Regions from separate parts of the Homo sapiens genome. Here region 1 is linked to region 2. Evidence: fine-mapped expression QTL. A gene starts in region 2. The other region holds a variant in brackets. All regions are shown on one strand. Distances are from middle to middle.

Region 1 (11,815 bases), 46 kb before region 2:
TTGTTATCAGATGTCCTATAGGTATATTAATATCTGAATGGGTTGTACTTCTCACTTACATGAATGTACATCAAATTAAGTAAAATCTCCTGGAGAGACTTTACTTGACTTAAAGTAGTGATATTTATAAAGCTCCATGCGGAAAATAAGTGGATACTCATTTGTACAACCTGATGGAGATGTGACCTCACCAAAGAGTACTGCTTAAGTAACACAACTATAGTAACAATATCCAGAATTCCCTAAAAAGTGGGTAGACGTCTAGTGGGATCACTTGTTGACGGGGTAAGTAACAGCAATTTGCTCTTGAGTTACCATAGCAGAGACTATCCCAATCCCAAATTCATATTCAACAATATATGTTGATACATCTCCTTTTTAGTTTCCATAATTCATTCTTTGAGCATGGCCCAAAATCAGAACATCGTTTTTATAAGGTCCCAAATCCCTACCCAGACACTGGCAAAACAAAAGCAAACACAAATCTTTGACAGGGAAGAAAACAGGATCTAAATACCCAATTTGTAAAATGTCAGATTTTCACCAGGAAAAAAATTTTCTCATAAATTTGTTGTTTATTTTTGTCCTCCCTTCAAAGATGAGATGACGAGAGAAAACTGGGATAGTAACAACAGAAGGAGGCATGTGAGCTATGCTAAATAGGACAAATTAGCCAAATGCAACAATAAACTCTATGAAGCTGGGATATAGGGTATGGCTGAGTGGGGAATGAAGAAGAGCAAAGCAAAGAAAATAGAACAAATAATAACTCCAAGGCTTTAGAGATTGGGTGCTGGGAGAACTGTGATCTCAAAAATGAGAAGAATTTTAGACATACTAAAGATGAGATGCCAGGGGAGCATCAAGCACAATATTCATCAACCAGCAGAACTGCAAGTTGTCGGCCCAAATACATGGCTTAGGGTTCATCAACTGACACAGGATAACTAATGTCAGGAGGAAACTGGAAGAAAACAGAAAAGAGGGCAAAGCATGGGAACTAGGGAAATAATTTTATTCAAGTAGCAGAAAATAAAATGAGAAAATGAAGGTCTTAAAGAAGTTTTTTTTTTTTTTTTTTAAAAGAGGAAGAATTAACAGAATGAAGTCTAAGCAGCCAACACCAGGAGAAGAGTTTAAGCATCAGAGATGGTCAATAGTGCCTATGCTTGAGCCATACAGTAAAACAAGGATTTGAAAAAGGGAAACATTTTTGACAAGCAAATGCTGTGAGAAAGGAGTTTCTTGAGGGGGAGGGCAAAAGAAGGCCAACCTATAAGGACCAAAGAGGAAGTAGGTAATGAGAAATTAAAGTGGTGAATATAGACTCTGAAGTCTAGGATTCGGGCTGTTAAAGGATAGTCTATGAGGGAGAAAGAATAGCTTATCCTGAGGCTGGAAAGAAGAAAAAAAGTAGAGATAATGATAAACAGGAATAAAAAAGAAAAAAAGAACAAAGTTAGAAAAACTTTCACTATCCAATTTCAAGTGTTACTATTAAATTACAGTAATCAAGAAGTATGGTATTAGTATAACTTACAGGTGAATGAGACAGGATACAAAGTCCAAAAACAAGATGCACACATATATAACCAATTGATTTTCAACCAAGGTGTTAAGGTAGTTCAATGGAATAATGATAATCTTTTCAACAAATGGTATTAGAACAGCTGGATATCCATATGCCAAAAAACCCCAAACAAAAAAGAACTTGATCCTTACTTCACACCATAAAACTTAACTCAAAATATACTATAGGCCTAAATGTGTAATCTAAAACCATACATCTTCTAGAAGAAAACATAGGAAACTATCTTAATGATCTTGGGTTAGCAAAGATTTTTTTAAAAGCAGCATGCAAAAATCCCTACAAACTACTAGAAAAAACCTGATAAATTAGACTTCTTCAAAATCAATCTTTTTGTCTTCAAAAAATAATGCTGAGAAAACAAAAAGGCAAAACACAAAGTAGAAGAAAATATTTACAAAACATATATCCAATAAAGGACTTGTATCCAGAATAGATAAAAAACTTCATACTCAGTAATATGAAGACACGACTCGAACTTAAAAATGGTCAAATGATTTAAAGAGATTTCACCAAAGTAAATATACAGATGGCAAATAAACACATTAAAAAGTTGTACATCATTAATAATTATACTACTCAGGTATTAGTATAGTTAGGGAAATACCTCCACATATGTTCAGAAATGGCTAGAATTATAAACACTGACAACACCAAGTGTTGGGGAGGATGTGGAGCAACTAAAGTCACATACACTGCTGGGTGGAATGCAAAATAGTACACCCACTTTTGGAAATGTTTAGCAGTTTCTTATAAAGTTAAACATTTACTTATCATATGACCAACCAAAATTAAAAGGTTTCTACACAAAGATTTGCTTACAAATGTTCATAGCAGCTTTATTCATAATAGCCAAAAACTGAAAGACTATGAATGTCCATCAACTGGTAAATGGATTGACAAATTATGGTATATCTATACATTATACTATTACTACATGCAATAGCATGATTGTCAAAATATTATGCTAATAAAAGAAGCCAGCTAACAACGGGCTACATATTGCATGATTACATATGTATGAAATTCTAGAAAAGGTAAAAATACAGTAATAGAAAGCAGATCAGTGTTGTTAGGGGCCAGTGGGCACGAGTGAGGTTTAGGAATTGACTGCAAAATGGCATAAGGAAGCTTTTGGAGAAGACAGAAATGTTTTTCTATCTCATGATTATGTGGCTAATATATAGCTGTGTGAACTTGTGAAACTGGGCCAGGTGCGGTGACTCACTCCTGTAATCCCAGTGCTTTGGGAGGCTGAGGGAGGAGGATCACTTGAGGCCAGGAGTTTGAGATTAGCCTGGGCAATATAGCAAGACCCCATCTCTACCAAATTGATTGACTGATTGATTGACTGATTGAAACAGAGTCTCGCTCTATTGCCCAGGCTGGAGTGCAGTGACGTGACCTTGGCTCACTGCAACCTCCGCCTCCTGGGTTCAAGCAATTCTCCTGTCTCAGCCTCCGGAGTAGCTGCAATTACAAGTGTGTGTCACCATACCCAGCTAATTTTTATATTTTTCATAGAGACGGGGTTTCACTATGTTGGCCAGGACGATCTCAAACTCCTCACCTCAGGTGATCTGCCCTCCTTGGCCTCCCAAAGTGCTGCGATTACAGGCGTGAGCCACTGTGTGCCTGGACCCAAAATGATTTTTAGCTGGGCATGGTGGTGCACACCTATGGTCCTAACTACTTGGGAGGCTAAGGCAGGAGAGTTGCTTGAGCCCGGGAGTTAGAGGTTACAGTGAGTTATGATCATGTCGCTGCAGTCCAGCCTCTAGCCTAGATGACAGAGGGAGACCCTGGCTCTAATTAAAACAAACAAACAAAAAACTTGTCAAACTGTACACTTAGAAGTGGTGACTTTTATGGCAAGTAAACTTACCTCAAAAAAACAAGGAGGAGGTGGAAAGGAAGAAAAACAGGAGGAAGAGGAAGAGAAGGAAAAAATGGGGAAGAGAATGGGGAGAAGAGCGAAAGGGGAAAAGAGAAAAAGAAGAGGAAGAAAAGAAAAAATCGGGAAGAGAAGCAGGAGAAGAAAAGGAAAAGGGGGAAGGAGAAAAAGAAGAGGAAGAAAAGAAAAAAATGGAGAAGAGAAGGGCATAGGCACCATAAAGAAAGGAAGAAAAGAAAAAAATGGAGAAAAGAATGGCATAGGCTCCATAAAGAAAGAGGCTCATTTTAACCATTCAATGAATACTTAAACTCTTGTTGGGTATCAGGCAAGGACTAGGCACAAAAGGAGAAACATCCTTAAATCCTGAGTAATTTATAGTATAAAGAGTGAGGTACATATGGAAACCAACCTTAATATAATCTGATAATTACTATAACAAAAATATGTACAAAGTACTATGGGGATAACAAAGAGATTTGGGGTGGGAGGTATGAAGAGTGGTTTAATAATCTGAAAGCTGCAATATGAAATAAGAGGGTGAGAGAGAACTAACCATCACCAAAGAAGTACTAAGAAGTAAGGTTAGAAGAGCTTACCTTTTGTTACTGGAGAATTTACTTGACCTCTGGAATATATAAATCCACGATGAACTAAAGCTTTTGTCTTTTAATAAAAACAAAAAAAAATTCTATTTCACTTACCAATGTCAGAAGTCAGTGGTTCACTTGTCTCACTGACTGAAACACTGATACTAGGTGCAATCTGTTGCTGGACTGGAAAGAGCCCAGAGATAATTCTTGACATTATTTCTTGCTCTACCCTGAGAGGATGGTGGGGCAGATAAAAGTTAAGATTCCT[C/A]AATTTGATTGAAATGTAAAAAATGTTAGACATACCACCCCTAAAAATAACCTTTACCAATGCCACAAACATGTTGGTGTGAAAGCAGTCATTCTGAAAGTTAAATCTAGAAGAAAAAAAATAAAATGGGCTGGGCATCATGGTGCATCTGTAATCTCAACACTTTGGGAGGCCACGTTGGGCAGATTGCTTGAGCTCAGGAGTTCAAGACCATTCTGGCAAACAGGGCAAAACACTGTCTCTACAAAAAATACAAAAATTAGGTGGTACGTGCCTGTAGTCCCAGCTACTCAAGAGGCTGAGGTGGGAGGATGGCTTGAGCCCACGAGGTTGAGGCTGCAGTGAGCTGTGATCACACCACTGCACTACAGCCTAGGCAATAGAGTGAGACCCTGTCTCAAAAAAAAAAAAAAAAAGTACCTCTGAAGAAGATAAAACACACTAAACAGAATCTCCTTGTGGGAGATAGTTTATGAAATCAAATTAAAATCTTTCAGATTAGTCTAATGAAAAGCTTAAAAGAACTCCTAAACTCAAAATAAGACTTGGGCCAATGACTATCTGGCATATCATGTACCTAAACTGTTTGATTTCCACTCTGAGTGCACACATAAAAACCATATCAGATCAGAGCTAGAAAAGATGTCCAGCTGCCCTTTCTTCACGGTAATACACATATAGGCTGTATTATAGGTAGTTTTCCTCTTAAAATGTAAAGAAAAAATTTATTTCCAAAGTCATCTTCAGGAAGGGAAAGGGGAACAGGAGACTTCTAGAACATTTCTTTAGTGCAGTTAATAGACTTCTTAAAAATTATTATATAAATAATAGGTGTTCATTGTAGAAAATTTAGAAAAAAATGTAAGAGTTTAAAAAATTGATAAAGCTCACCTATAATCCTAGGTTCAGCAATAAACACAGTTAATTTGGTATGTATGCTTTTTCAAACTTTTGTTTTATGCACAGTTTTTTGTTTTGTTTTGTTTTGAGACAGAATCTCACTCTTTCGCCCAGTCTGGAGTGCAGTGGCACAGTCTCAGCTCACTGCAACATCCACCTCCCAGGTTCAAGCGATTCTCCTGTCTCAGTCTCCCGAGTGGCAGGGACCACAGGTGTGCACCATCGCACCTAATTTTTGTATTTTTTCAGTAGTGACGGGGTTTCATCATGTTGGTCAGGCTGGTCTCGAACTCCTGACCTCAGGTGATCCACTCACCTTGGCCTCTCAAAGTGCTGGGATTACAGGCATGAGCCACTGTGCTAGCTGCCTACTTACTTTTGAGTAAGATCTTGTAAACTGGGGTTACATTGTTAGTATCCTGCTTTGTTTATATGCCAGTACATTATTAATATCTTTTTATATCATTAAATTTCTTCTAAACCTAATTTTCATGACTATATTAATATTCAGCCATTTCACTTATTCCATAACTTCCTTAAGGTTTCTTACAAGTAAAAATACAAATAATAGCGTTCATTTCATATTCATATGTAACAAGTTACAATTGTTATTGTAATATGTAACAATAATAACATATTACAGCTTGTTGTTATCAGTATGTAACAAACCTAGAACAGTGCCCTCTTTGTAGTGCTAGGTATTATATGGCCTAGTATAGCAGTCCCAACCTTTTTGGCATCAGGGATTGGTTTTGTGGTAGACAATTTTTCCACAGACCAGGGCAGGGGTGGTGGGGTAGGGGGTGGGGGGATAGATTCGGGAGGAAACTGTTTCACCTCAGATCATCAAGCATTAGATTCTCATAGGGAGCGTGCAACCTAGATCCCTCACATGCACAGTTTACAATAGGGTTTGTGCTTCTATGAAATCTAATGCCACAGCTGATCTGACAGGAGGTGGAGCTCAGGCAGTAATGCTCACTCACCCGCTGCTCACCTCCTGCTGTGCAGCTTAGTTCCCTGGTTCCTAACAGGCCACAGACTGGTACTGGTTCGTGGCCCTGGCCTAGCAGCAAACCATAATTACTTCTTTAGGATAAGTTTCTGGAAATGAATCACTGGATTAAAGAACATGTACATTTTTAAGGCTTCCTAATAGTCTACTTGTGCCAGAGTAGACAGATTGAGTACAAATATTCAAGGACAAAAACAATAACCTCCAACAATAGTTAAGCCCTCAGCATTATATCAAACACTTTCCAGTGACTAAAGCAAAGAAAGTTTAATAAACAAAAGAAGACAAGGAATATTTTCAGCCACATTTTAATACTTTCCATTTATATTTTCTACTATGGTTCTATTCATACCAAAAACATTATAAACTTACCATTGAATTAAGCTATTTTCCAGTGTTTCTTTTCTCTCAATTACTTTATCCAGAATATCAGCAGTGGGCTGAAAAGTAGAAGCAACTGGCGGAAATGGAGGACCATTATATTTTGTAGAATCAGCTTTAACACTTCTGTTAAACTCCAGAATTGGTTCAGAGTCTGGAATTTCATCACATTTTTCTTCTTCCTGGTAGTAACAAAAACAAAACTATTATATTCATGTATTTGTTCAACATTTACTGAGTACCAACTATAGGCAAGGAACTAGGTGAATTAAGAAACCCTTCTAAATTAACCAACAGCATTTCTAATTAGGTGGTATCACATTAATTATAATATACACATTAGTCAGACATATCATATTGAGGAACCCTTAATTACACAATCAGTTTGTCTTTTTAGAACCCAATATTCATTTTATGCAATCACAAAATAAACTAGAAAACATAATTATTCCTACATAAAACACTATTATTTCTCTCTAGAAATGTATGCTTAATAATTATCGTTAAAAAATTGATGCTTCCTGATATGGTTTGGATATTTGTCCCCTCCAAATCTCATGTTGAAGTGTGATCCCCAGTGTTGGAGATGGGGCCTGGTGGGCGGTGCTTGGGTCTTGGGGGCAGATCCCTCATGAATGGCTTGGTGCCCTCCCCATGGTAATAAGTTAGTTCATATGAGAGCTGATTGTTTAAAGGAGACTGGCACATCCTCCTCTCTCTCTTGCTCCCTCCCTTGCTTTGTGACACATCTGGACCCTCACAGCCTTCTATCTGAGTAAAACTTCCTGAGGTCCTGACCAGAAGTAGTTGCTGGCACCATGCTTCTTGTACAGCCTGCAGAGCCACGAGCCAATTAAATCTCTTTACTTTTTTTTTTTCTTTAAGACAGAGTTTCACTCTTGTCACCCAGGCTGGAGTCCAATGGTGCGATCTCAGCTCACTGCAACCTCCACCTCCTGGGTTCAAGCAATTCTCCTGTCTCAGCCTCCCGAGATGCTGGCATTACAGGCGCCCACCACTATGCCTAGCTAATTTTTGTATTTTTGGTAGAGATGGGGTTTCACCATCTTGGCCAGGCTGGTCCTGAACTCCTGACCTCAGGTAATCCACCTGCCTCAGCCTCCCAAAGTGCTGGGATTACAGGCATGAGCCACTGTACCTGGCCTTAAGTCTCTTTTCTTTATAAATTACCCAGTAATTCCTTTATAACAATGCAAAATACACTAATACACTTCCAAAATCACTTTTTGCTCTTATACAACTTATAATTTACATTTAAATATGCAATAAGGTCAGTCATCTTACAAATTATTTGCATTACCACATCATAACCAATAGAGTTATTTCTGGAATTGTTAAAGTTTTTATTACAAAAAAATCATATGTGTTTAAAAGTAAACAAATAGTGTCCTTGTACTGTATCTGTTACATAAATAACATGAATTGCATTTATCCGCTCCCCAGCTTTAACAATTATCAACTTATGGTCAATCTTGTCTCATCTAGCCACTTTCCCCTTCACATATCATTTTGAAGCAAATCACAGATATCACATCATTTTATCTATAAATAATTCAATCAAAAACACTTTGGGTCTCTCTAAATAGTACAACTCAGTAATATTATTCCATTGAAAAATGAAGTCCACAGCTTATAAATGGCAGAGCTAATACAGGAACACTTGTCTTTGAATGCTAAATTCTCTGCTACTTCTATAACCATTTCTTTCGCTTGTATATTGCATAAACAATTACCAAGTACCTTTGCTAGGCATTAGGAATATAAAAATAAATAAGGTCCCTGTCTTCAAAATTCTCATGTGGCACTCACATGAGAAAAGACATATCTGTGAGCGAATAACATTAATATACTGCACACCTCTGTATATTCTAAAATTGGATTTCATTTTATGATTAACAAAACTGATCTTAGCTCTAAAAGTCAAAGAAACTTGATCAAATGTGTTCTTTAAAGTCTAATGACATAATGGTCAAGTAGTTTCAATGTTCTATGATCTTTTGTCCCATCCTTTATAATTTACTTCCACCTATTTTTCCCTCTATTTCATTATTTCTATCATTTCTATAACTCTTCCTTCCATATGGGATATTCCTTTGGATTATAGATTTCTCACAACTTTTTTCTCAATATCAATTAACTAGTCACCTCACCATGAATCCAAAAACCAAAATTAACAGAAAGAAAAAAAGACAAATTGGAGGAAAAGAAGCCAAAGGAAGTGGAAAGAAAGAAGAAAGCAGGAAACAGATAGACAAAATCTAGGTGGGGAACGGCAGATAATCATGAAGCTTCATGAAGGCAGATAGGTGATATAGATTAAAGACATTCTAGAATAACAACTTTATAATTTTTAAAAGTATATTTAACTCAAAAGTAAAAGAAAGTATCTCAAAGCACTGTAACATAATATTGATAGTCCAAAGATAGTCAACAACCTGGAAAAATACCGGTAGAAAAATAATTTCTCATGGTTTCTAAGCTTTGTTACCTGTATGACATCGATTATTTCATCAAAGTTAGTTCCTGGAAACTTCACCTCTTCTTCATCTACCTTCATAATTTCTGGAGTCTAAGAAAGCATTTTCAGAAAGTTTTTGTTGTGCTTAACACTTTTAAAATTTATAAGTAATTTATCATATTTCCACCTATAGTATAAGCTTATAATTACATGGTCCTTTTTAATCATTTTAATACCCTATTCAGAATTGATTTAATTAGTAAATGAAATCCAAGCTAGTCCCCAAGCCATTAGGTCAACATTTCAATAGCTTTAAAAAATTAATCAGCTGTTTTTCTGTAAAGGACTCCATCAGCAATATCACTTAATTGATCAACAGGTTGATATAATTGAGACTTCTCTTCCAGAATTAAGATAAAGGAAAGTGTTTACATGTGTAGATCTCTAAGTATAAACATATATGAACTCACATGAAGATGGATACAGAATCAAATAATTCAGGAAAAAAAACAAAATAGTCATTTTACAAATCTAATCATTAGGCCTCATTATATAAAATGTAGTCATGCAATAGCCTCTTACTGACAGCAGAATGATAAACAGTCCAAAAATTTATTGCTTGTTATCACAGAAGTTTCAATAAACAGAAGGTTAAAAAAAAATACTGATGAAAAAATTCAATTAAGCACAAATGTCACTTACGGACAGTTCTATTTCATTACTTATGATCATGAAAGATTGCTGGTATTCTCTCTCCTTTTAAAACTGTACCCTTGGCCAAGTTTGCTTACAATAAACAAAACCTGGGGTAAGTTACAGTGCTATTTTGCTGTGTAGTAAAGCCATAACTTCATTATTCAAAAGCAAATAAATGCCAGGAAGAAATGCATATTTTTGTATCATGTCAACAGTGGGATAACAAGGTAACATTCCAAAATATAAACTCCCAACTGTCACTATAAAATTCATTTAGGATATCTATAATTCCCATGTAAATCAAAGATTCATCACCAAAGTGACAGAAATTCTTTCTTCACATGAGAGTTTCACAACTTAAATTACCAAAAAGTTACACTAAAGATTATCACTTTCCAAATAGTTATAAATGTAAGGATCTGAAACAAACTTTCAAGTTCATAAACAATTCAAAATTTGTTTTGGGCTGGCGTGGTGGCTCACGCCTGTAATTCCCGAACTTGGGAGGCCGAGGTAGAGGGATCACTTGGAGTCAGGAGTTCAAGATCAGCCTGGCCAGCATGGTGAAACCCCATCTCTACTAAAAATACAAAAATTAGCCGGGCGTGGTGGCAGGCACCTGTAATCCCAGCTACTCAGGAGGCTGAGGCAGGAGAATTGGTTGAACCCGGGAGGCGGAGGTTGCAGTGAGCTGAGATCACACCACTGCACTCCAGCCTGGGCGACAGAGCAAGACTCTGACTGAAAAAAAAAAAATTGTTTTCAATCTTTTCTTCAAAATCTAAATTATTATAAGTTATCATTATGATAAAAGGCTTTAAATGGAGTAATTAGTTAAAATCTACAGTCAGACATTACTCAAAATAATATGATAAAATTCTGAAATATACCTTTATCCAAGTTTGCACAGGAGGAAGAGATGCTTCTTTGGGGCTAGACAGAGGTGAAAGGACATCAGCACTACTATTTGAAATGCTGTCAATATCTACACTGGGTAATACCTAAAACAGAATACAACATTCAGCTTTCTGTTTATCATTTTTACTCAAATATTTTTATGAGTATGTGTATATACATGTATATGTGTGTGTGTATACACATATACATAAAAACAAAGCATGCCCTTTAAGTTTTTATTGTGAACCCAATGGATAACAAAATTTTTTAATTATGAAAGCATATTTTATAAAATATGAAAAATAAAGAGGAAAACACACAAAATTCTATCTTAAGATGACTTCATTTTCACTATTCCCTTTGTCTTTTACTATCTACTTATACATAACTAAAATTTAAAATAGTTTTCATTCTTGATTTTTCATTTTGATTACAAGAACCATAAACACTTATCATGCTTTTGTATAGACTTCATAATTATATTTTTAAATGACTATATAACATTTCAACAAACATGTCTTAATTATTTAATTATGTTTCAATTGGAAAAATTTAGGAAATTTCCAATTTTTCCACTATTATATATATATCACTACAAAAAAAACTTACACACACATAAACACACACACACACACACACATTTTCTTCCTAAACCCTAAATTAATTCACTATACTAGATAGCCAGATATTGGATTAACTTTCTGGGCCACAGGACACGAATACTTAAGATTCTTGGAAGTACTGGTGAAATGTAATCCTAACAACCTCTATTTACATCATCAAAAACATAATTAAGTCTAAGTTTTACCCAACCCTCACCAAAATTAGATAATATGATTGTTTCAGCAATAATAGTTTTTAAATGGATGCATCTTATTGTTATTTCAATTTGCATTATCTTGGTTACTGGCAAAACTTATTTAGTTTGCTTGCTGATAAACTGTACTTCCTCTTTTGTAGAGTCTTATTCATGTCCTTTGAACATTTCTAGACTTGGATCTGTGTTTTCTTATTAATTTATAGAGATCTTTATATTTAAAAATTAATGCTTTACTAGCATCTTCGTTTCATATGTTCTTACTGTGTGTTGTTTGCCTTTTAATT
Region 2 (11,815 bases):
GACGGGAGGACTTCTTGTGCCCAGGAGTTTGAGACCAGCCTGGGCAATATAGTGAGACCCTATATCTACAAAAAGTAAAAAAGTTAGCTGGATGTGGTGGCACATGCCTGTAGTCCCAGCTACTCTGGCGGGGGGGCGGTTAGGGGGACCTCAGGTTGTAGGATTACTTGAGCCTGGGAGGTCAAGGCTGCAGTGAGCCGTGAACCTACCCATGAACTCCAGCCTGGGTGACAGAGCGAGATCCTGTCTCAACAAAATAAAAAACAGAAAGTAAAACAAAAATAAAGAAGTGCAGAGGACAGTGGCTGGTGCATAAGTGTTACATCAGAATTTGCTATTACCATTTTTAAAACATTGCTGCATTCCAATCACTGTGTATTAATCTTTTAACATATGATAAAATATAATTTACTCATAACTTATTTAAAGAACTAGGTTTGTTTAAATTACAATAGCATGATGAAAATATCTCTGATGAAACTAATTGTTAGGTGTTGATACTTGGGCTAGGTTAGCATCATAAAATGACATGAGGGGCATTCTTTGCTTTTCATTGCTCTGGAGCAGAATATATAGCATGATCATAATCTGTTTCTTAAAATTTTTCAAGAACTCAAACAAAATCATGACTGCTTTTGGAGATTGCTCTTTGAAGGTTTTTTTTAAATTTATTTCCCAGTAACTGGCCTATTAAAATCTTCTTAGTTATATGGTTATTTTTGGTGAGTTATTTCTTTCATCTAGATTTCTTAATTTGTAGCATTCATGTACACAGTATTCTTAATACACTGTATTCTTAATACCTTCTAAGTCTATCATTATGTCCTCTTTTTACTTCTAACATGCATTCTCTCACCAGTTTTCTGACTTAGACTTGTCCAAGATTTGCTTATTACACTGACGTACTTCTAGAACTAGTTGAAAACATTCTACTGTGTTTATGTTTTCTTTTATCTGGTATACTTGATTTCTTCTGCTTTCCCTGCTTTTTTCCTATCATTCAGCATCTGTCTGTCTGTCTGTCTCCCTATTTTTCTGATGAGACGGGGTCTCATTCTGTCACCCAGGCTGGAGTGCAGTGGCATGAACATGGCTCATGGCATCCTCAAACTCCTAGGCCCAAGTGATCCTTCCACCTCAGCCTCCCAAGTACCTGGGACTACAGGCACACACCACCATATCTGGCTAATTTAAAAAAATTAGCTATATTGCCCAGACTGGTCTCAAACTCTTGGGCTCAAGTGATCCTCCTGTCTTGGACTCCCAAAGTGCTAGGACTACAGGCATGAGCCACCATGCCCAGCTTCCTTCAGCTTTTATAAGAAATTATTTTCCTGCTAAATTTCTAAAATTGACTGTTTAGACTCTTTGTCCTCAAATTTCCATATGCTGTAATTTGATACAAAAAGGTGGTGTATTAACAGATCAATCCTAATTTCACAATAAGAGATAAAATCAGATATCTATGTATCCCGATGTATTACACAGGAAGTATATAATATCACCTATCAAGCATTCTTGCCACTTGACAGAAATTCAAGGTTGAAAGAAACATGTTAAAGACAACAAAAGGATACATTCAGCAAAATCCAGAAGGTAGAAAATTTCTTAAGACAAACAAATTATAAGAAAAACGAAATAAGGGTAAATCTGTAGATTAAAACAAACTGAAGGCTGATCATGGTGGCTCACACCTGTAATCCCAGCACTGTGGGAGACCAAGGTGGGCGGATCACCTGAGGTCAGGAGTTTGAGACCAGCCTAACCAACATGGTGAAACCTCATCTCTACTAAAAATACAAATAATAGCCAGGCGTGGTAGTGTGTGCCTGTAATCCCAGCTACTCAGGAGGCTGAGGCAGGAGAATTGTTTGAACCCAGGAGGTGGAGGTTGCAGTCCAGCCTAGGCAACAGAGCGAGACCCTGTCTTAAAAAAAACAAAAACAAAAACAAACTTAAGAGACATATCATTCAAATGTAAAGTGTGGCTCTTCCTTAGATTCTAACGCAAAATTAAATTAACCACAGGGCGCACTGGCTCACGCCTGTAACCCCAGCACTTTGCAGGGCCGAAGCAGGTAGATCACCTGAGGCCAGGAGTTCAAGACCAGCCTGGCCAACATAGTGAAACCCCATCTCTACAAATATACAAAAATTAGCTGGGCATGATGGCAGGTGCCTGTAATCCCAGCTACTTGGGAGACTGAGGCAGGAGATTGCTTGAACCTGGGAGGCAGAGGTTGCAGTGAGCCGAGATTGTGCCACTGCACTCCAGCCTGGGCGACGCGAGACTCCATCTCTAAATAAATAAATAAATAAAAGAAAATGGGGATTCTATAAAATTGGGATAGTAAATCTATTTTATAAGTGTGTTAAATGAGTTAATACTATAGCACTTCCATAATAATAACTGCTAACTGCTACTGAGTATTTTATACGTGTCTAGCACCATGAGAAATGCTTTATACATATCACACAATATATATTTCACATAGTGAAAAGGTTTTTCATATGTCCAAAGTACAAATGAAGCTGATTTACATAAGAAATGGTCCAATTATTTTCTGTAAATGAAACTTACTTTTGCTTTAAAACTGTTCTTAGAGCATCTTTCTGTCCCATTGTATACTGAGAAATGAAGATGTCATTTGCTGCAAAATCAAGACACAAAAATATATATTAAATTCCTGAATATTTATTAAACTTTAATAAGCTACTAAAAAAATCTTTTTTAACTAAAAGAATGTTTAGGAACTCAGCCATAGCATTCCACGATCGAAAAGGACAAGGAACAAATTAAGTGATTAAGTAATAATATAATCCTCATAATCCCAAACCCACAGCCAACATCATACTGAACGGGCAAAAGTTGAACACATTCCCCCTAAGAACTAGAACAAGACAAGGATGCCCACTCTTACCACTCTTTTCAATACAGTAGTGGAAGTCCCAGCCAGAGCAATCAGACAGAGAAAGAAAGAAAAGGCATCCAAAAAGTAAAAGGAAGTCCAATTACCTCTGTTCACTGATGACATGGTCCTATACCTAGAAAACCCTAAAGATTCCTACAAAATGCCCCTAGATCTGATAAATGACTTAAGTAAAGTTTCAGGATACAAAATCAACGTACAAAAATCAGTAGCGTTTCTATACACTAATAACATTCAAGCTGAGAATGAAATCAAGAACTCAATGCCATTTACAACAGCGGCACACAAAAAATAAAATTCCTAGGAATACATTTAATCAAGAAGGTGAAAGATCTCTACAAGGAGAACTATAAAACACTGATGAAAAAAATCACAGATGACACAAATAAGTGGAAAACATTCCATGCTCATGAATTAGAAAAATCAATATCGTTAAAATGACCATACTGCCCAAAGCCATCTACAGATTCAATGCAATTCCTATTCAATTACCAACATCATTTTTCACAGAATTAGAAAAAACTATTTTAAAATTCATATGGAGCCAGACACGGTGGCTCACGCCTGTAATCCCAACACTTTAGGAGGCTGAGGTAGGCAGATCACTTGAGGTCAGGAGTTTGAGACCAGTCTGGTCAAGATGGTGAAACCCTGTCTCTACAAAAAAAAAATAGAAAAATTAGCTGGGTGTGGTGGTGTGCACCTGTAATCCCAGCTACTCAGGAGGCTGAGGCAGGACAATTGCTTGAACCCGGGAGCTGGAGGTTGCAGTGAGCTGAGATTACGCCACTGCACCCCAGCCTGGACAACAGAGGGAGACTCCGTCTCAAAAAAAAAATTTATAAACATATCTAATACTAAACCTCTGCAATAGGTTGGTAATAACAAGATAACCTTCACCATTGCAAACCTTATTCTGGATTTTATAGCTTCTAGTGATAGCTTAATTTGGGAAGAAAAACTAATTTAAAATGAAAATAATAAAAACTATAAGACTACGTAATAAATGTTTAAAAATAAATTCTACCCTTAAGAAGAAAATTCTGACACATACTACAACATGGATGAACCTTTAAAACATTATGCTAAGTGAAATAAGCCAGTCACAAAAGGTCAAATACTATATGATTCTACTTATATAACGTACCTAGGGTAGTCAAATTCATAGAGACAAAAAGTAGGATGCCCAGGGCTGAGGGGATGAAAAATGAGCAGTTAGTGTTTAATGGGTAGAGTTGGGAGAGATGACAAAGCTCTGGATATGAAAGGTGATGATGATTGTACAACAATGTGAATGTACTTACTGTCACAGAACTGTACATTTTAAAGTAGTAAACTTTATGTTATGTATATGTTGTCACAATTTAAAAAAATCAATATTATTCTTTTACCTTTTTGCTTGTTGTTCTCTTCTATTTTATCCAAAGGCAACACTTGCACTGCAACGTCTTTAGAAAAATCCTTTGGGATATGAAAGGAAGAAATAGGCTAAATAAACTTCATGATTTATTATTTATCAAGAACCGTTTACTAGCTATGTGACTACTGTGTTCTGGGAGGGCAGGACTGTGTATTTCATATTCTTCATTTCCATCATCATGCAATTCTGATGTACCTTAAAGCTACTCAAAGATTTGTTGAATGGGTGAGTAATACACTATCAGACAAGTGAATGAATGAGTAAATGAACCAGCAAGCAAATGTAGCACTGAGATTCAGACTCAAACCAGTTTGCCACTTGTAGCAGAGCAAGTCATTTAACATCTCAGTTGCTTCAGTGAAATGTGAAAATCTGACTCACTGTGAGTCAAATGGAGTAGATAAGGATGGCACAACATCACGAAGATCACCCATTTATTCTCAATTATACAATAACAGTGTATCCATACATTTGAGAAGTTTAGATATCATTAAATAAGGCCTGCTTAAAAAAAAAAAAGACAAAACAACAAAAAAACACTCCAAAGTCTAGGCATTTACTTAGGGATCAAGTACAGCAAATAATTATACATTTTATTGTGAGCTTTTGACAAAATTGTCATATAGTCTCAATTGAATTATTAGTTTGCCAGCTTCAATTTTCAAAATAGCATATTGTGAAACTCTCATTATACAGACTTATTAAACTGACAATACATAGGTCAACACTATGATTAGCCGTCAAAGTCTGATTAGATCTCATAACCAAAACATTGTATTTATCAAATACTTTCGGCATTATAAAGTTAAGATGATAATTTCATGTTATTCTTAAAGAACCTCCCTTCTAAGAAAACCAAAACCATTCTCACAAGTGTTAGAATGACATGCAAGCACACCTCACATTAAAGAAAAATTGTACTGTTAGTTGTTCCTTTTCTTTTACCTAAGAACATGTTAAGTCTCTGGGCAAGAACACCTTTTCCCTGAATAGTAAGAGAGTTTCTTTTCAGTTATCCTATCTCTTTCAGCGGCCATTATCTTACTAATAGGTATTTTTGATTCTAGGGAAGGCCTTTTGTTTAATGTCTCAAACACCATTCAAAGTCACAATTGTAGTATATAAAACATTTGTTTTGGTAAGTGATATTTAAATAAAAACAAGGCATGCTGCTAATCAAACATAATTTAAGAATGCATTATTTGACAATACTGAAAATTTTAACGTGAGCATAATTAAGAATCCTTTTGCTTACACTTTCTGACACCATGGGATTTTCTAATAGAGGCTGGTAACAATTTCTAGCAGAAGTTAAGTCTGATGAACCTAACAAAACAAAGGAATAGATTTTAGTGATTTTAAAATCAGATCCTTAGCTTTAGAAACTGTATATGCATGATTCAAGATCTATAAACTCCATATAACGCAGAAGTTGGAAAGACAATTTGCATGCAAAAAAAGTTAAGAAAATGTATTTAAACATATCTGAATGAAAGTTTTTACAGTTGATATTTGGGAAAATAAGGTTCGGTACTGACAATAAAGTGAGATTAAGCACGAAACATTTTAAAATATAACCATACACTATTGGATGTGGACAAACTATGGGTAGAAATATGTATACGATGTAAAGGTCTAATTTAACAGCAGTACTATTTGAGTGTCACCGCTGTATCCCCCAAAGAACAGCATTACAAAAGCGTTTTGCTGTTTTTGCTCACATATTCATTAATTTAATCCTCACAATTAGCAGCGAAGTGGGTAAAGCATATGTTATCCTTATTTTCACTGAGCTCTAGACAGATTAAGTGAATTGGAATATAGAAGCCATCAATTGGCAGAAGTCCTGCTTTTCCCACTATGAAAAGAAAGTAGTGAATTAGGTAAAAAGCACTACTTTGGGGGAAAACTATAAAAAACACTACGTGGGGGAAAATAAAGCACATTATACAAGTTAAGTGTATCCACCATAAATATAAAAAAAAAAATATGCAAAAGTCAATGCAAAAAAAAAAAAAAAAAGCACAACAGGGGACGTTAAAGTTTCATTCATTCCATCTATTCAAACATTTTATAGGCTTCCTGGCCATTTTCCCGGGAAACAGGGTCAGTTTTCAAACATCTGTACAAACTAGACTTATATCTTACGTTTGGGAATTTAAACAAATAAGGACTAAAGATTTACTAAACTAAAACTGGTTGAAAAACTACATGGAATCACATACCACGTGATGTTCCATTCAAACTAGTCCCCGTTCCAACAGGAAGACGTTTATTTGCAGACAATGCCGGAGGAACACAGGGCAACTCATCTTTCAGCAAAACCAAATGATCTCCATGATTTTGAGAAACTACCTCACGAAGTCTCTTCACTGGCATCTTAATCTTTTTTTTCTTCTCCAAGCTGACCTCAGAGCCTTTCATATTGTTGGTCACAAAACAAGTCCCACACTTAAGGACGGAAAAACTTTCTCTGTTTCCTTAAGACTTCAGAACAAAATTTTCACCTCTTTGCAATAACTGTTTTTAAAATGTCGAACATCCACAAAGCTGAAAATCTAAATTCTGATATTGAATCCAGGATTAGAGCTGACTATAAAGTCATATTTACCCATTAATCCCACTCAGTCTATTAATACACCACGCCAAAATGTGAAAGTGGGGATGACAAGAGAATGGCCACAGGAGCAACAATAACCATAACAGTGCACTCCCCAACCCCAGAGCTGGTAGGGCAAAACCAAACACATGTAGTGGCGGGCTTAAAATTTGTTGAGAAGAGGCAGTCAAGCAAATAAAAGCGAAATGCTATTTTTAAAATAATGACCCACATAAGAAGCGTAATAGCTTTCTTCAGCCACAGAGTCTTACACACCCCTCCAGATGCAATCGTCGGAAACATAAATTCACCCCTACGTATCTCCAGAACGCCCGAGACCCGCACCGTCGTGGGTGTAATCTGACAACAGCGTCAGTTGCCCGCAGGTCAACACCCACTTCCCTTCAAACCCGCCCTTGAGACACAACACGCATGCGCGCCAAGAAACTCACCCAAAACATCCAACCAGAAAGCTAAGCGCTCTCTGGTGCTCTTCCATTCCTCTCCGGGTGGAAACAAACTCCGGACATAACAGGGGTTTATTTATTTATTTATTTTAAGGTAGCACATTGCCGCACAAGACCGCTCTACAGTCTCATCCAAGACTTGAAGAGCTCCCGACTTGTAATACTACTTGTGTTTACCAGGGACTGTTGACACTGCTTCGCTTCCGAAGACCGTTAGGGACGTGGGATTAGGTAAATTAGGCTTCCAAGAAGTTTCGACAGATTCGGGTCATTATTGGAGAGGAAGTCGGGAATAGAAAGCGTTGTCTAAGCAGAAAATAACCGAAGTTAATCCTTAGGAGATTTTAGAATTCGCTGATGGTACCTGCTTTTTCTTCTAGATTTCCTCGCGTTATAACGAATCGGCGTCTAAGGGTTTAAGTGTCACTTGACATTACTGCTCCCACGTGTTCTTTCCCATCTGGCGGCCGCGGCTCCTGTCCAGACCCTGACCCTCCCTCCCAAGGCTCAACCGTCCCCCAACAACCCCCAGCCTTGTACTGATGTCGGATGCGAGAGCCTGTGCTTAAGTATGGTGTCTGTTCTCTGCCGTGAGAATCCGGGGTTCCCGGACGGGGGGTGGCAGGCTACGCTCCAGGAAAGTGGCGGGGTCTCCCGAGGAGGCCGCCGCACGTACCTGGAGCAGTGGGGGGTGCGAAGCGGGACAGCGCTTCGCCGGGTCGGGTGCAGACCTTCCTGGAGATGGTGTCACCTGGGCGAGGGTAGGAACTTTAGGCCCTGAGCCACCCCCAACCCGGATCTGGGGAGTCGGGGTCCTGTTTTGGGACACTGAATTAGACTATAAGGTATTTACGATGTGACCTTGAGCTGCCCGGGGGAAGATCCTCCTTTAAATGAAAATCGTCTTTAGACATAATACCAGGTCTAACACCCCTTCCCTGATCTGCTCATTTCCCAGGATGCGCTACTTAGAGCTTTCCCTTTACGCCTTACTGGAGGCTTTAGAATAATCAAAGCAGAAAATGTAATCCGATCTAAAAGCTAAATAACTAATTTTATTTCTTTTACATCTCGGCAGTCTACCTTCATAGAAGTCTAGACTTAAAATGGACTTTAAAGTCTGAGCGCGGTGGCTCACGCCTGTAATCCCAGCACTTTGGGAGGCCAAGGCGGGCGGATCACGAGATCAGGAGTTCGAGACCAGCCTGGCCAGCAAGGTGAAACCCCGCCTCTACTGAAAATACAAAAAATTAACTGGGCATGGTGGCGCGCGCCTGTAGTCCCAGCTACTCAGGAGGCTGAGGCAAGAGAATTGCTTGAACCCGGCAGGTGGAGGTTGCAGTGAGCTGAGATCGCGCCATTGTGCTCCAGCCTGAGTGACAGATCAAGACTGTCTTAAAAAAAAAAGAAAAAAAAAGACTTTAAGGGCTCAGCGTTAAAGACCCTTTTAATTATTATTTTTTTGTAACTTGCTGAGTTTCTCTAATGAGTTTTGTGTTGTTTTTTGAGACAAAGTCTCACTCTGTGGCACAGGCTGGAGTGCAGTGGCGCGATCTTGGCTCACTGCAACCTCCGCCTCCCAGGTTCAAGCGATTCTTCTGCCTCAGGCCTCCTGAGTAGCTGGATTACAGGCGCCCGCCACCACGCCCAGCTAATTTTTTTTGTATTTTTATTAGAGACGGGGTTTCACCATGTTGGCCAGGTTGGTCTCGAACTCCTGACTTGATTCACCCGCCTCGGCCTACCAAAGTGCTAGTATTACAAGCGTGAGCCACCGCACGTGGCCATTATTTTTTATTTTAGTTACATTTTCTCTTCGTAATTGGGCTCATAGGTGGTACTTGTTTGTTCACAATTTATTGTATATTATGAGTGTACTGAAAGAACTACAATGTCAGAGTCGCCAGAGACCTTGGAGATAGTTTAACTCTTACCTTCTAGGTGAAACTTATGTGAAAGAAACAGTGACCTAAGATCTGAGTGTAGGCACTCTGAATTATTAAAATGACAACTTAATTTGGATCTTACAGCTCTTTGTCATTACTCTTTAGTTCCTTTCCCTCTTTTTTTTTTTTTTTCCAGAGACAGGGCCTTGCTCTGTCATGATCATAGCTCCCTGAAGCCTTCAACTCCTGAGCTCAGGCAATCCTCCTGTCTCAGCCTCCTGAGTAGCTAGGACTACAAGCACTTGCCACCACGCTGGCTAATTTTTTACTTTTTTGTAGAAACTAGGTCTCGCCTTATTGCCCAGGCTTATTTTCTCAGCTCACTGCAACCTCTGCCTCCTGGGTTCAAGTGATTCTTCTGCCTCAGCCTCCCAAATAGCTGGGATTATAGGCACCCGCCACTCTGCCCAGATAATTTTTGTGTTTTTAGTAAAGATGGGGTTTCACCATGTTGGCCAGGCTGGTCTGGAACTCCTGACCGCACGTGATCTGCCCACCTCAGCCTCCCAAAGTGCTGGGATTACAGGCGTGAACCATCATGCCTGGCCTTATTTTCTCACTCTAAATCAGCCCTCTCAACCCCTTTTCTTTATGACTGACACTTTTGAAAAGACCAGCCAGGTTGTCTTACAAATTGTTCCATGTTGTAGATTTTCCTAATTATTCCCTCATGATTAGAGCCATATCAAACTTTGGCCAGAATACCACATAGGTGATGCTGTCTTACTGCATCCCACCAAGAAATACCTAATGTTGGCACCCATGTTTGTGATGCTAGGTTTTATGACTTAGCTTATACGTTTTTTCTTTGAGACAGGGTCTCTTTCTGTCACCCAGGCAAGAGAGCAGTGGCGTGATCATGGCTCACTGCAGCCTCAAGCTCCTGGGCTCAAGTGATCCTCCTGCCTCAGCCTCCTGAGTAGCTGGGACTACAGGTGCACACCACCATGCCGGCTCATTTTTGTATTTTTTGTAGAGATGGGGTTTTGCCATGTTGCCCAGGCTGATGTAGAACTTTTGGGCTCAAGCTATCCACCCACCTCAGCCTCCCAAAATGCTGGGATTGAGCCACTGCACCTGGTCAGTCACTTAGCTTATAACATATATTTGGCTATTTGGAAAATATTTTTAGATAGATGATATGTGTCATAATAGCTTATAAGACATTTTATAGGTCTTAAATAGGTCATTTTATAGGTGCAATGGGGAAAATACTGGATTTTGAAGTCCAAAGACCTTAGTTAGGCTCCAGCTGTCCAGTTACTATCTGTATAAGTGACCTCATGTAAGTTTCTTAAGATTTCTGAACCATCCCTCCCAGAATTAGTAGGAAAATCATAAGGGAAGTGTAATGTATACTTATACCTGGATAAATAAGGATAGCATGACATTAAGTATTTTTTTTAATAGTAACACATATGCCAAAGAATTGTAACCTCAGAATAGAGGAAACTAATTTCACTTACTAAAAAGGAAGAAACTTTAAAAAAATAAATGATTAGCCAATAGAAGTTTACATTTCATTGAAAAGACTATTAGAACTTGAAGGGGACTTAGTAATCATATTACCTCATTTTTCAGGTAAGAATCAGGCCTTATTGGAGACATTCAAGCAAAGGTTGGACAACTACTTTTCCAGAACAGAAAGGAAACTCATGCATCAGAAAAGGTTAGAGCTTGATGACTGATAAGATCTCCCTTTATTCTTAAGTTCCCTGGTTCTAGGATATATTTTGTTTGCCACAAGAATAACAGCATCATTGTAATCATTCCCAAGATCTAAGCCAGTGATTCTTGAATTTGCTTATTTCTTCTCTCCCTCTCCAGGTTTCAGGGATATAATCAGAAGGTAACCCCTGATGGGTCTTTGCCACAGTAACATAAATTTGCTGTAATATATGGAAACTAGGATCAAATAAAAGAACAACCACATTACTGCTACCTGTTCTCACCATCAGGTGGTTTATGTGGCTGGTGGAATTTGTTAGTCTAAGCTTACTATTAAATAACTGCGAAGTGAATAGTGAAAAATTTAGAAGACCTCAAATTAGCAAGTAACTCTGAAAATCATTGATTTACTCAGTCATCTCCAGTATTTTCTCTGAACCAGTTGCCTACAATTATGTATACCATAATCTTTTTTTTTTTTTTTTTTTTTTTTTGAGACAAAGTCTCGCTCTGTCACCCAGGCTGGAATGCAGTGGCACAATCTCAGCTCACTGCAGCCTCTGCCTCCCAGGTTCAAGCAGTTCTGCCTCAGCCTCCCGAGTAGCTGCGATTATAGGCATGTGCCACCATGCCCGGCTAATTTTTGTATTTTTAGTAGAGACGGGGTTTCACCATGTTGGCCAGGCTGGTCTCAAACTCCTGACCTCAAATGATCCACCCGCCTTGGCCTCCCAATGTGCTGGGATTACAGGTGTGAGCCACTGTGCCTGGCCTATACCGTAATC

Which allele goes with the higher level. Positions count from the first base shown, and alleles are read on the strand shown. Sizes are in standard deviations (SD) of each study's normalised expression.
For the expression in cerebellar hemisphere of the gene that starts at base 7,320 in region 2, allele C in region 1 goes with a lower level than allele A (large effect, 1.0 SD a copy in GTEx).

What was found. PIP is the estimated chance that this variant, and not a neighbour inherited with it, causes the effect.
Region 1: its variant is fine-mapped to the expression of KIAA0586 in cerebellar hemisphere (GTEx, PIP 0.93).

What each region holds. Positions count from the first base shown.
Region 1 is chr14:58,469,613-58,481,427 of GRCh38, reverse strand. It overlaps KIAA0586, which reads right to left. Exons shown (of 31, transcript NM_001329943.3): 17 at 10,705-10,815; 18 at 9,149-9,229; 19 at 6,631-6,821; 20 at 4,187-4,305. Among named protein-coding and RNA genes, the nearest start is that of KIAA0586, 48 kb to the right of the region's middle. The variant C/A (reference allele first, on the strand shown) is at 4,344.
Region 2 is chr14:58,423,224-58,435,038 of GRCh38, reverse strand. It overlaps KIAA0586, which reads right to left and starts at 7,320. Exons shown (of 31, transcript NM_001329943.3): 1 at 6,576-7,320; 2 at 5,606-5,676; 3 at 4,322-4,391; 4 at 2,582-2,651. The coding sequence starts at 6,774. TIMM9 (translocase of inner mitochondrial membrane 9) reads left to right here and starts at 7,508. Exons shown (of 6, transcript NM_012460.4): 1 at 7,508-7,647; 2 at 7,797-7,985; 3 at 10,944-11,031. RefSeq lists enhancers at 7,049-7,238, 7,309-7,358, 8,373-9,316.